3 linked regions of the Homo sapiens genome follow. The protein of the gene in region 1 purifies or fractionates together with the protein of each later gene. This does not show direct contact. Each region holds a gene or a part of one and is shown in the gene's direction. Other genes may lie near its edges.

Region 1 (3,662 bases):
GCCCAGACTGGTTTCAAACTCCTCAGCTCAAGCAATCCTCAGGCCTCGGCCTCCCAAAGTGCTGGGATTACAGGTGTGAGCCACCAAGCCCCGCCTACTACATTATTTCATACGGCAACCTCTGTCTCTGCCTCCCCCCAGGCACATACTCCTGATCCCTTCTCTACTTTTCTTTCTCCATAATACTTACCACCTTCTAAGGTATTATACAATTTGCATATTTATAGTTTATTGTTTATTCAGTTTCCCTTTGTTAGAATGTAAGCTTAAAAGCCAAGATCTTTGTCCTCATCTTAGTCCTTTGTTCGTTATTGTATCCCAAGTTACTAGAACAGTGCCTGGCACAGAATTGGCACTCAGTAAATATTTGCTAACTAAATGAATGAATAAGCCACAAAAAAAATGATACTTAGGGAAAACTTAGAAATAGGTTGTAATAGCGACTGGGCACAATAGCTCATGCCTGTAGTCTCAGCCCTTTGGAAGCTGAGATGGGTGTATCACTTGAGGTCAGGAGTTCAAAACCAACCTGGTCAACATGGTGAAACCCCGTCTCTACTAAAAATACAAAACTTAGCTGGGTATGTGTGGCAGGCGCCTGCAATCTCAGCTACTACAGAGGCTGAGGCAGAAGAATGGCTTGAACCGGGAAGGCGAAGGTTGCAGTGAGCCAAGATTGCATCACTGCATTCCAGCCTGGGCGACAGAGCCAGACTCCATCTCAAACAAAAAAAAAAAAAAAGGAAAGAAACATGTAATAGTAAAAAGTTATTTTTTTAAAAACCCTTTAAGTCTACTTTGATTAATTACATGAAATAGATCTTTTCTGGATAAGGACTAGAAAAGAAAAGGCAGAGTCCAACTAAGGAAGAAATACACTAAATTAGAATTTAATGCAAAATAGAAAAAGCATCCTTTGGCAAGATTTGAATATATGATAAGTTTTTTAGATGTGAACTTGAAAATGTACAAAATGATGCATAGATTTTCAAAATTTCTTTCAGGGGTACTTCAAGGGTAAAAAAGGCTGAAGACCACTGAACTAAAGGAGCTACAAAACTGTCTCATTTGAAGCTTGGTGTGGGAGGGATGGGAGTAGGTCTTAAATAATTCCATTTTACAGAATCTTTATCAGAGATTGATGGGTATTTTTATCTCCACCCAGATTGGCTTTGTAATGTGGCGATTACATCAACATGGTTTGCATCTTATACACCTGCAATTTGAAATTGTGTGATTCTGGTTAAAATACTAATTTTGGAGGCTTTGCATTATTTTAAACATTGTATATGATATGAAAATTTATCAGTATTACTCTACCGTACTATTTGAATTTTACATAATGTGATCCATATGTCACCTGACAATACTACATTTCACCTCAAGTCAGACCTGTGGTTAGTTCTAGGCATCATCTTCTTTAAGGATTTGGAGATGGAGACCGAGTTGAATAATGATAAGGTACTTCTTAATTCCAGCTACATGAGGTAGATCCCATCAAAAGTGGTGGCGCCCAAATTTGAACCCAGCTTTGTCATAATTCAAACTCTTTCTACTTGCCTCTCAAGTTTCTCTGTGAAAGAAATCCATGTTGTTCAGTGGCACTAATTTGGATATGAAGAGTAACAATTCACTTACTTTTCCTATTGCATATATATATTTTTAAGATGTTCTCATTCCGGAGGGGAAGAACGTCTAGAAACTCCTTCTGCTAAAAAATTAACAGATATAGGAATTCGAAGAATCTTTTCTCCAGAGCATGACATTTTCCGGAAAAGTGTAAGGAAGTTTTTCCAAGAAGAAGTGATTCCTCATCACTCAGAGTAAGTGGCACATTTTCCTCTAATGTAATGTATACTAGGGGTATTATAGGACCATTTCCTAGAATGCCATATATTGCTATACAGAAAACATAGTATGTTCAGGGCTTTATTAACATTTTTACTGCTCTTCACTGTAGTACTATAAGATCCCAGGATTCTTAGAGCTTTTTAAATGAATTTTAAAATGTACTATACACAAATAAGAAAATTTGAAAATTTACAACTTAGTCTAAGAGTAGTGTTTTTGAAAACCATGGGTAAGTGGTAACAAAATACTAGTCAATTTCATAGTCTTTCTTTTTCTGCTTCATGAATTAATTAAACTGTAAAAACCCAAAAAGTCAGCACAATGCAAACCTTGGTAAGCAATTGGTTACCTCTGGATAGTTCTTGATTAACTAATTATTATTATTTTATTGACCAGAAACTTATCTATTTCTATTACAATAAGATTTTGCTTCATTTCCAAAATTCACTCAATGCTAGTACAGATGCTCCTCAATTTAGTATGGGGTTACAAGTTGAAAATATCATAAGTCAAAAATGCATTGTTATTATGTTAACACTGTTACTATGTTATTATAAAAACAAAAAAATTCTCGGCACCGTTATTATGTTAGAAGCAGAAATTAGAAGATTAGTAAAATGAAGAGAGAAATGGTTCAGGAACATCATAGGTTTGTGAGGTTTTACACACCTAGCCTACTAAACCCCATAGTTTAGGCCAGCCTACATTAAACATGCTCAAAACAATTACATAAGCCTACAGTTAGGCAAAATCATCTAACACAATGTCTACTTTGTAGTAAAGTATTAAATAACTCATGTAATATATTAAATATATTTAATATATGTTAAAGTGAAAAACAAAATGGTTATATGGATACTTGAAGTAAGCATGTTTTCGACTGAATGTGTATTGCTTTTGCACCATCATAAGTAAAAAAATTGTAAGTTGAACTGTCATAAAGTACAGAGACATCCGTACTTTAAAACATTTAGAATGGTTTTTAAATAGCATTAAAAGTAACTTCCATTAGGTTTTTACTAATACCTTCTTGGTAAGAATGACCAAAATAAGCTAAACTCAGAAGCCAGAAGCCATGACTAGTCTTCGGTGAAAAGCAACTAGCTTCTGTTTTTTGAGGACTTGTTTGTTTGTTTGTGTGTTTGTGTGTTTTTTAAGACATGGTCTCACTCTGTTGCCAAGGCTGGAGTGCAGGGGCATGATCATAGCTCACTGCAGCCTTGAACTTCTGGGCTCAAGCGATCCTCCTGCCTTAGCCTCCCAAAGTGCTGGGATTACAGGTGTGAACCACCACATCGGGCTTCAACTAGCTTCTTAAAGACAAAAGAGACATTGTACACTTTGCTCTGGTAGGATCTCTTGTTTATTTCTCACTGCTTTTAAATTTTATTCCAGAAAAAATGTTAAGAAGGCTTTGAAATAAAATAATAGGAGCTGACAAATTTTAAGTCAATAATAAAAATATTTCCAAAGCTACTTTAAGCAAGAACTGTATTCAAAACACACATGATAATCCAAGTCTTAAAAATTTTTGTAGTGTCAGTATCTTCAAATACCCCATATCTCACTATAATCCACTTAAAAATACAAAAATTCTCAGATATTTTTTCACTATCTCCAACTAGCCATCTGTTTCCTCATTCTGCCATTCTCATTTTTAAAGAAGAAAAGCTGAGGTTGCCTACCTTACACAAATATCTAATTTTTTCAGAAGTTAATTTGATATAGAGCCATGGTGTAAGGTGCTTCTGCTCTCCTGTTCTTCCTATTTAAACTGTAATGAGGTTCCCTACTTTGTCAGCTTTTGTATG
Region 2 (2,665 bases), on another chromosome or scaffold:
AAAAAGAAAAGAAATTAAGCAAAATGATCTTAAAGTTCAAGTGAAAGAGTAGAGTAGAACTGAGTCCAGAACTAGATTCCAGTATATGACGTTTATACGTGACAAAAATATATTTCTTTTTCTTTCTTTTTTTTTTTTTTTTTTTTGAGACAGTTTCCCTCTTGTTGCCCAGACTGGAGTATAATGGCACGATCTTGGTTCACCACAACCTCCGCCTCCCAGGTTCAAGTGATTCTCCTGCCTCAGCCTCCCGAGTAGCTGGGATTACAGGCATGTGCCACCACGCCTGGGCTAATTTTGTATTTTAGTAGAGATGGGGTTTCTCCATGTTGGTCAGGCTAGTTGCGAACTCCCAACCTCAGGTCATCTGCCCGCCTCAGCCTCCCAAAGTACTGGGATTACAGGTGTGAGCCACTGTGCCCGGCCGACAAAAATATATTTCAATAGAAAATAGTATCAGTAAAATGCTAGCACAACTAACTATCTGTCTAAAGACAATAAAAGTTCAACCCCTATATCATGCAAAAAGCACTTTCCAGATATATTAAAATGTTTTCAAGCTATAAAGTAAAACAGTAGAAGTCTTAGAAGAAAATCTAAGAGACTAGAAATCTAGAGATAGGGTAGACCTTCTTAGCTAATTTTTAAAAATGAAGCTATATTTAAGATATATATTTCAAGTAAATAATAAGTGTGTGTGTGTGTACACACAGATGCTTCTCAGCTTACAATGGGGTTATGTCCCAATAAGCCCATCAGAAGTCAAAAATGTAAGTCGAAAATGCATTTAATACCCTGATAAATCCATCACAAAGCTGAAAAATTATAAGTAAAACTGTAAGTCACAGACTGTATATATAAATTTAAAATTTGGCAAAATATATTGCAAAGTCAAATTTGGGAAAGTATAGCACAGATAAAAGATTAAACTATTCACGGCCAGGCACGGTGGATCATGCCTGTAATCCCAACACTTTGGGAGGCCGAGGCGGGTGGATCACCTGAGGTCAGGAGTTTGAGACTAGCCTGGCCAACGTGGAGAAACCCCATCTCTACTAAAAATACAAAATTAGCTGGGTGTGGTGGTGCATGCCTGTAATCCTAGCTACTCAGGAGGCTGAGGCAGGAGAATTGCTTGAACCTAGGAGGCGAAAGTTGCAGTGAGCCAAGATGGTGCCATTGCACTCCAGCCTGGGCAACAAGAGTGATACTCCGTTTAAAAAAAAAAAAAAAAAAAAAGGTAAACTATTCAAAAGATAAATGGTTGAAAGATATATAACTAGGCAGTTTAGATAAGAACAAATCCAAATGGCCCATCAACATAAAAAGATGCTCTAACTGTAGCCAGAGAAATACGAATCAAAGTACCAACGAGCCCAACACATGGACGAAAACTTCAGAGAACACTACAGTCCCAGAAGAGAGGTAAAGGGCAAGAAATGAATCATTTATTGCTGATGGAAATGTGCATTGTAGAGCTGATATCTGTTCAAATTAAATATGCATATTTGACCTCAATTCTACTACTGATATCTACACCAAGGAAATGAAAGGAAATGCACAAGATTATTTATTGCCACACTCTAGAAGGAAAAACAGAGTGCATGCCCATCAATAGAATAGTTGAATAAATTATGATTCATGCATAATATAGAACATTATGCATTCATTTAAAAATGAGTTTGATGTTTAAAGGTTGACTTAGAAGGATTCCCGTGCAAAGTGAACAAAACAGAATACCGAGAAGGATGTATGTGAGGGATGCATGTGGGCACCTGGGAAAGGAGATGAAGAAAGCAACTGAAGGATATTTACCAAGTTGTTAATATGCATTACCTGACATGGTGATATAGGAGTAGGGGTGAGGAAGTGAAGGATCTGAGTAGGTGGAAAAAGAAAAGCAAAAGTACAACAGCGGGAGAAAAAACAGGATGACTCGTCTAGAAGAGACATTGTCAGTAACAAGTAAATAACATTTTCTGGAATATAAAAAAAAAAGCTATATGAATGTCATCATTATATGTAAAATATGAATGTAAAATACATGGGAGGATAATATGCATTAATAAAAATTATGGTGCTGGCAACAGTATCATGGATGACTGTATTATTATTTCCTTTTCCTTAACATTGTTATGCTATCTTTGAGTAAAATTAATTTTAGAAATTTAAAAATAATTGTCATTATACTTAAACCTTATATTTAAACAAGAAAATAATTCAAAAAACCAAAGCAGTTTAACTTTCTTTCATTACCTGAAATTCAGCCTTTTTACACAGCTAGAGAACTTCAGTTGATCTTGTGAAGGACAAAGAAGCAGAAAGACTTCTCTAGGATGTTGGGTTTCCTAAAAGTTAAACTCAATCATTTAAAGTTGCAAATAGGTAGGCAGGATGGATTCTGAAGCACAGATTTCCCAAATGCCCTTTTTGCAGCAGATTCAGCTTCTAAACAAGTTTCAAGGGCAATGTTCATGATAGACGCAACTTTTTCTTAACATTATATTGCATTGTCAATATGTATTCCATCATTTTATGCTTTTCAATGCACTTCCATTTATAAAAGCCGCATAGTTTGCTCTTATATGCCAATATGTTTGTAGCTCAAAATATACTTGAAATATTTTAAGTCCGTTTGTGCTCTTGATTTATGAACTAAATATAC
Region 3 (3,662 bases), on another chromosome or scaffold:
AAAACCACAATGAGATATCATCTCACACCAGTTAGAATGGCGATCATTAAAAAGTCAGGAAACAACAGGTGCTGGAGAGGATGTGGAGAAATAGGAACACTTTTACACTGTTGGTGGGACTGTACTAGTTCAACCATTGTGGAAGTCAGTGTGGCGATTCCTCAGGGGTCTAGAACTAGAAATACCATTTGATCCAGCAATCCCATTACTGGGTATATACCCAAAGGATTATAAGTCATGGATTATAAGTCAAGGATTATAAAGACACATGCACACGTATGTTCATTGCGGCACTATTCACAATAGCAAAGACTTGGAACCAACCCAAATGTCCAACAATGATAAGACTGGATTAAGAAAATGTGGCACACATACACCATGGAATACTATGCAGCCATAAAAAATGATGAGTTCATGTCCTTTGTAGGGACATGGATGAAGCTGGAAACCATCATTCTCAGCAAACTATCGCAAGGACAAAAAACCAAACACCGCATGTTCTCACTCATAGGTGGGAATTGAACAATGAGAACACATGGACACAGGAAGGGGAACATCACACTCTGGGGCCTGTTGTGGGGTGGGGGGAGGGTGGAGGGTTAGCATTAGGAGATATACCTAATGTTAAATGACGAGTTAATGGGTGCAGCACACCAACATGGCACATGTATACACATGTAACTAACCTGCACATTGTGCACATGTACCCTAAAATTTAAAGTATAATAAAAAAATAAGTGTTGTCTGGGATGTGGAAAACTTGGAACCCTCATACATTGCTGGTGGGAACATAAATTGGTGCTGGCACCTTAAAATGTCAAACATAGTTATGACCCAGCAATTCCATACCTATGTATATACCCAAGAGAAATGAAAACATATGTCCACGCAAAAACTTATGCATGGATGTTCATAGCAGCATTATTCATAATATCCCACAAGTGGGATATTATTAGCTATATTTAGTTATAAAATAGCCCAAAGTGGAAATAACCCAAATATTTATAAATTGATGAATGGATAAATATAAAATATGTTCTAGGCAAGGTGCGGTGGCTCATGCCTGTAATGCCAACATTTTGGAGGCTGAAGTGGGAGGATTGCTTGAGGCCAGGAGCTCGAGACCAGCCTGGGCAATATAGGGAGACCCCATATCTACAAAAAATTAAAAAATTAGCTTGGTGTGATGGCATGCACCTGTAATCCCAGCTACTCGGGAAGCTGAGGTGGGATGATCACTTGAGCCCTGGAGGTGGAGGCTGTAGTAAGTGGTTGCACCACTGCACTCCAGCTGGGTGACAGAGTGAGACCCTGTCTCAAAAAAAAAAAAAAATGTTTTCTATCTACACAATGGAATACTATGTGGCAATAAAAAGGGAATGAAATACTGATACATGCTACAACATAGATGAACCTTGAAAACATCATACTAAATGAAAGAAGCCAGTCACAAAGACCACATATTTTATAATTCCATTGATAGGAAATGTTTAGGATAGACAAATCTATAGAGTCAGAAAGTAGATTAGTGGTTGCTGGAGCTGGGAAGAGGATGGGAATGGAGAGTGACTGCTAATGGGACTGGGTTTCTTTTTGAGGTGGCAAAAATGTTCTAACTTAGGTTATGCTAATTGTTCCACTATTCTGTGAATACAATAAAATGCACTGAACTGTGTACTTTAAAGGGTGACATATGTGAATTACATCTCAATAAAGCTGTTTTTTAAAAAAAAAAGGTCACAGAGCCCTGAACAGTGTGGTAGAAGTGAGGGGAGATGGACATGGCGGAAGGCCCTGGACACACATCTTTATCCCTTTGTGTGGCTACTTGCAGTTCCCGCCAAACCGGACCCATCTCTTTGTCCCCAGAGGCGAAGTCCAGTGGACCTTGGTTTTTCACTTCAAGACCAGTTTTGGGGTCAAGGCTATTTCAACATGGCAGACAGTAAGAGTTAAATAAATGCTTGGTGAATGAACCTACATTGCATCAATGTACAGGCCACCAGAAGTACTTAAGGCTGGAGCAGTCTCCAGGGCTGGGGAGGGGATCTCAGCAGGTTTTTAAAGGAAGGGACAGAACTTAAGAGCTCCTAAAATGTTCCTTCAGAAGAACCCTGAGTCTAGAGGAGAGTTAACTCATACCTAACGTGCAGTGAGAAAAGTCTCACATTTTTTCTTTAAATTCTTGTGCTGTATGCATCCTACTCTATTATTTCCAGCTTGTTTTAATTTAAAAATACTGTAAATTGCCATTCAGTAAAACGGATGCCTCAGGGAGTTGTGCTGTTTATTCTTGCATCCTGGAATACCTGTGGGTGTATGCTGCTATGTTCCCTCAGAGGAGCCCAGTCAACAAATACCCAGAGTGCCCGCTGTGTGCTTGGCACAAGGGGTGCTGTTGCCAACACAGGATCTGCCCTCATGGGACTTTCAGTTGAGAAATAAGTGCATAGCCCTGAGGAGCAGAAAGAGCTTGGTGGAGAGGACAGAATTATGGGGGGCAGAGTTTGGAAGCTCGTAAGAACATTGCCTTAAATGAAGACCAACATTTATGCTCAGTGTTTTACTAGGAAAAAGTTGAAAACTGCCTAAATGTCTACCAGTGGAATGGCTAAAAAAATTATGGTGTTACCATATAGTAGGATATTATGTAGCTATTTAATAATAAAAAACAATAAAGGAAAAGGCTTATGATGAAATTTTATGTAAAAAATCTTGAAAAAAAACTATACATAGTATGGTCTCAACATGTAAAACATACTCAGAAAAAATACCAGCATAGAATGCCCCAAATGCTAGTTGACTTTGGAGGGTAGAATTATGGGGGGATTTCTCTCTCTCTCCCCAAATTTTCTACAGTAAGTCTGGGTTATGTTATTAATAAACATCACATCTTTGATGCGGGAAGGCTAATCTACAGCTGCATGTGGGGGCAGGGCTAGAGATGAACCTGGAGTAGGGGCCACAGAGTAGACCGGGGAGGAAGGGCTAGAGATGGAGATGTGGGTGCCGTCTTCCTACAGGAGAGGTCAAAACAAACCCTGAGTGGGCACTGAGGGAGCCCGTGAAGAAACCGCAGAGAGCTGAGGAGTCTCGCGGGGCAGGAGGAGGAATTGGAGTCAGGGATGAGGAGAGTCAAGTGTCATGGAGCTGGGCAGAGATTCTAGGCAGAGTAGTATCTAGAAATCCTTGGAAGTCAAGGAGAGAGGTTGAAAGAGGAGCCCTCAGTGTAAAACCTTGTCTCCTTCCTAGAGTGGTGAGGTTAGATTTCAATGAGATATAGGAGAGTGATTAGCTATACAGGCTCTGGAGTTGGGCAGACCAGTTCAAACCTCAGTTTCAGAACTTACAGCTAAGTGACCTTGGAAAAACTATCTAACCTCTCTGAACCTGTTTCCCCATCTGTTAAATGGAACCAATAAAAACCATTAGGTTATTTTTTGGATTAGATGAATAATGCATGGAAAGTGTTTTGCACAGTGCTTGGCACATATATGTACTATTTTTTTTAAGAGACAGAACCTTACTTAATCACCCATAGCTCATGTAACCTCAAACTCCTGGACTCAAGTGATCCTCTATCACTTCAGCCCCCACTATGCCTAACTAAAAAAAAAAAATTTCTAAAGATAGGGTCTTGCTATGCTGCTCAGGCTGACTGT

What was found.
Region 2: the proteins of ACADL (region 1) and RAP1B purify together in Homo sapiens (affinity purification with mass spectrometry; one large-scale study listed by BioGRID and IntAct). This does not show direct contact.
Region 3: the proteins of ACADL (region 1) and SYT2 purify together in Homo sapiens (affinity purification with mass spectrometry; 3 studies listed by BioGRID and IntAct, with this or other methods). This does not show direct contact.

The regions. Positions count from the first base shown.
Region 1 is NC_000002.12:210,218,808-210,222,469, reverse strand, and holds part of ACADL (long-chain specific acyl-CoA dehydrogenase, mitochondrial precursor), read left to right. Parts: intron 1-1,667; coding exon 1,668-1,823; intron 1,824-3,662. UniProt on the Homo sapiens protein: Long-chain specific acyl-CoA dehydrogenase is one of the acyl-CoA dehydrogenases that catalyze the first step of mitochondrial fatty acid beta-oxidation, an aerobic process breaking down fatty acids into acetyl-CoA and allowing the production of energy from fats.
Region 2 is NC_000012.12:68,669,810-68,672,474, forward strand, and holds the end of RAP1B (ras-related protein Rap-1b isoform 1 precursor), read left to right. Parts: 3' UTR 1-2,092; downstream 2,093-2,665. UniProt on the Homo sapiens protein: GTP-binding protein that possesses intrinsic GTPase activity. Contributes to the polarizing activity of KRIT1 and CDH5 in the establishment and maintenance of correct endothelial cell polarity and vascular lumen.
Region 3 is NC_000001.11:202,605,955-202,609,616, reverse strand, and holds part of SYT2 (synaptotagmin-2), read left to right. Parts: intron 1-676; exon of another isoform or gene 677-3,662. UniProt on the Homo sapiens protein: Exhibits calcium-dependent phospholipid and inositol polyphosphate binding properties. May have a regulatory role in the membrane interactions during trafficking of synaptic vesicles at the active zone of the synapse.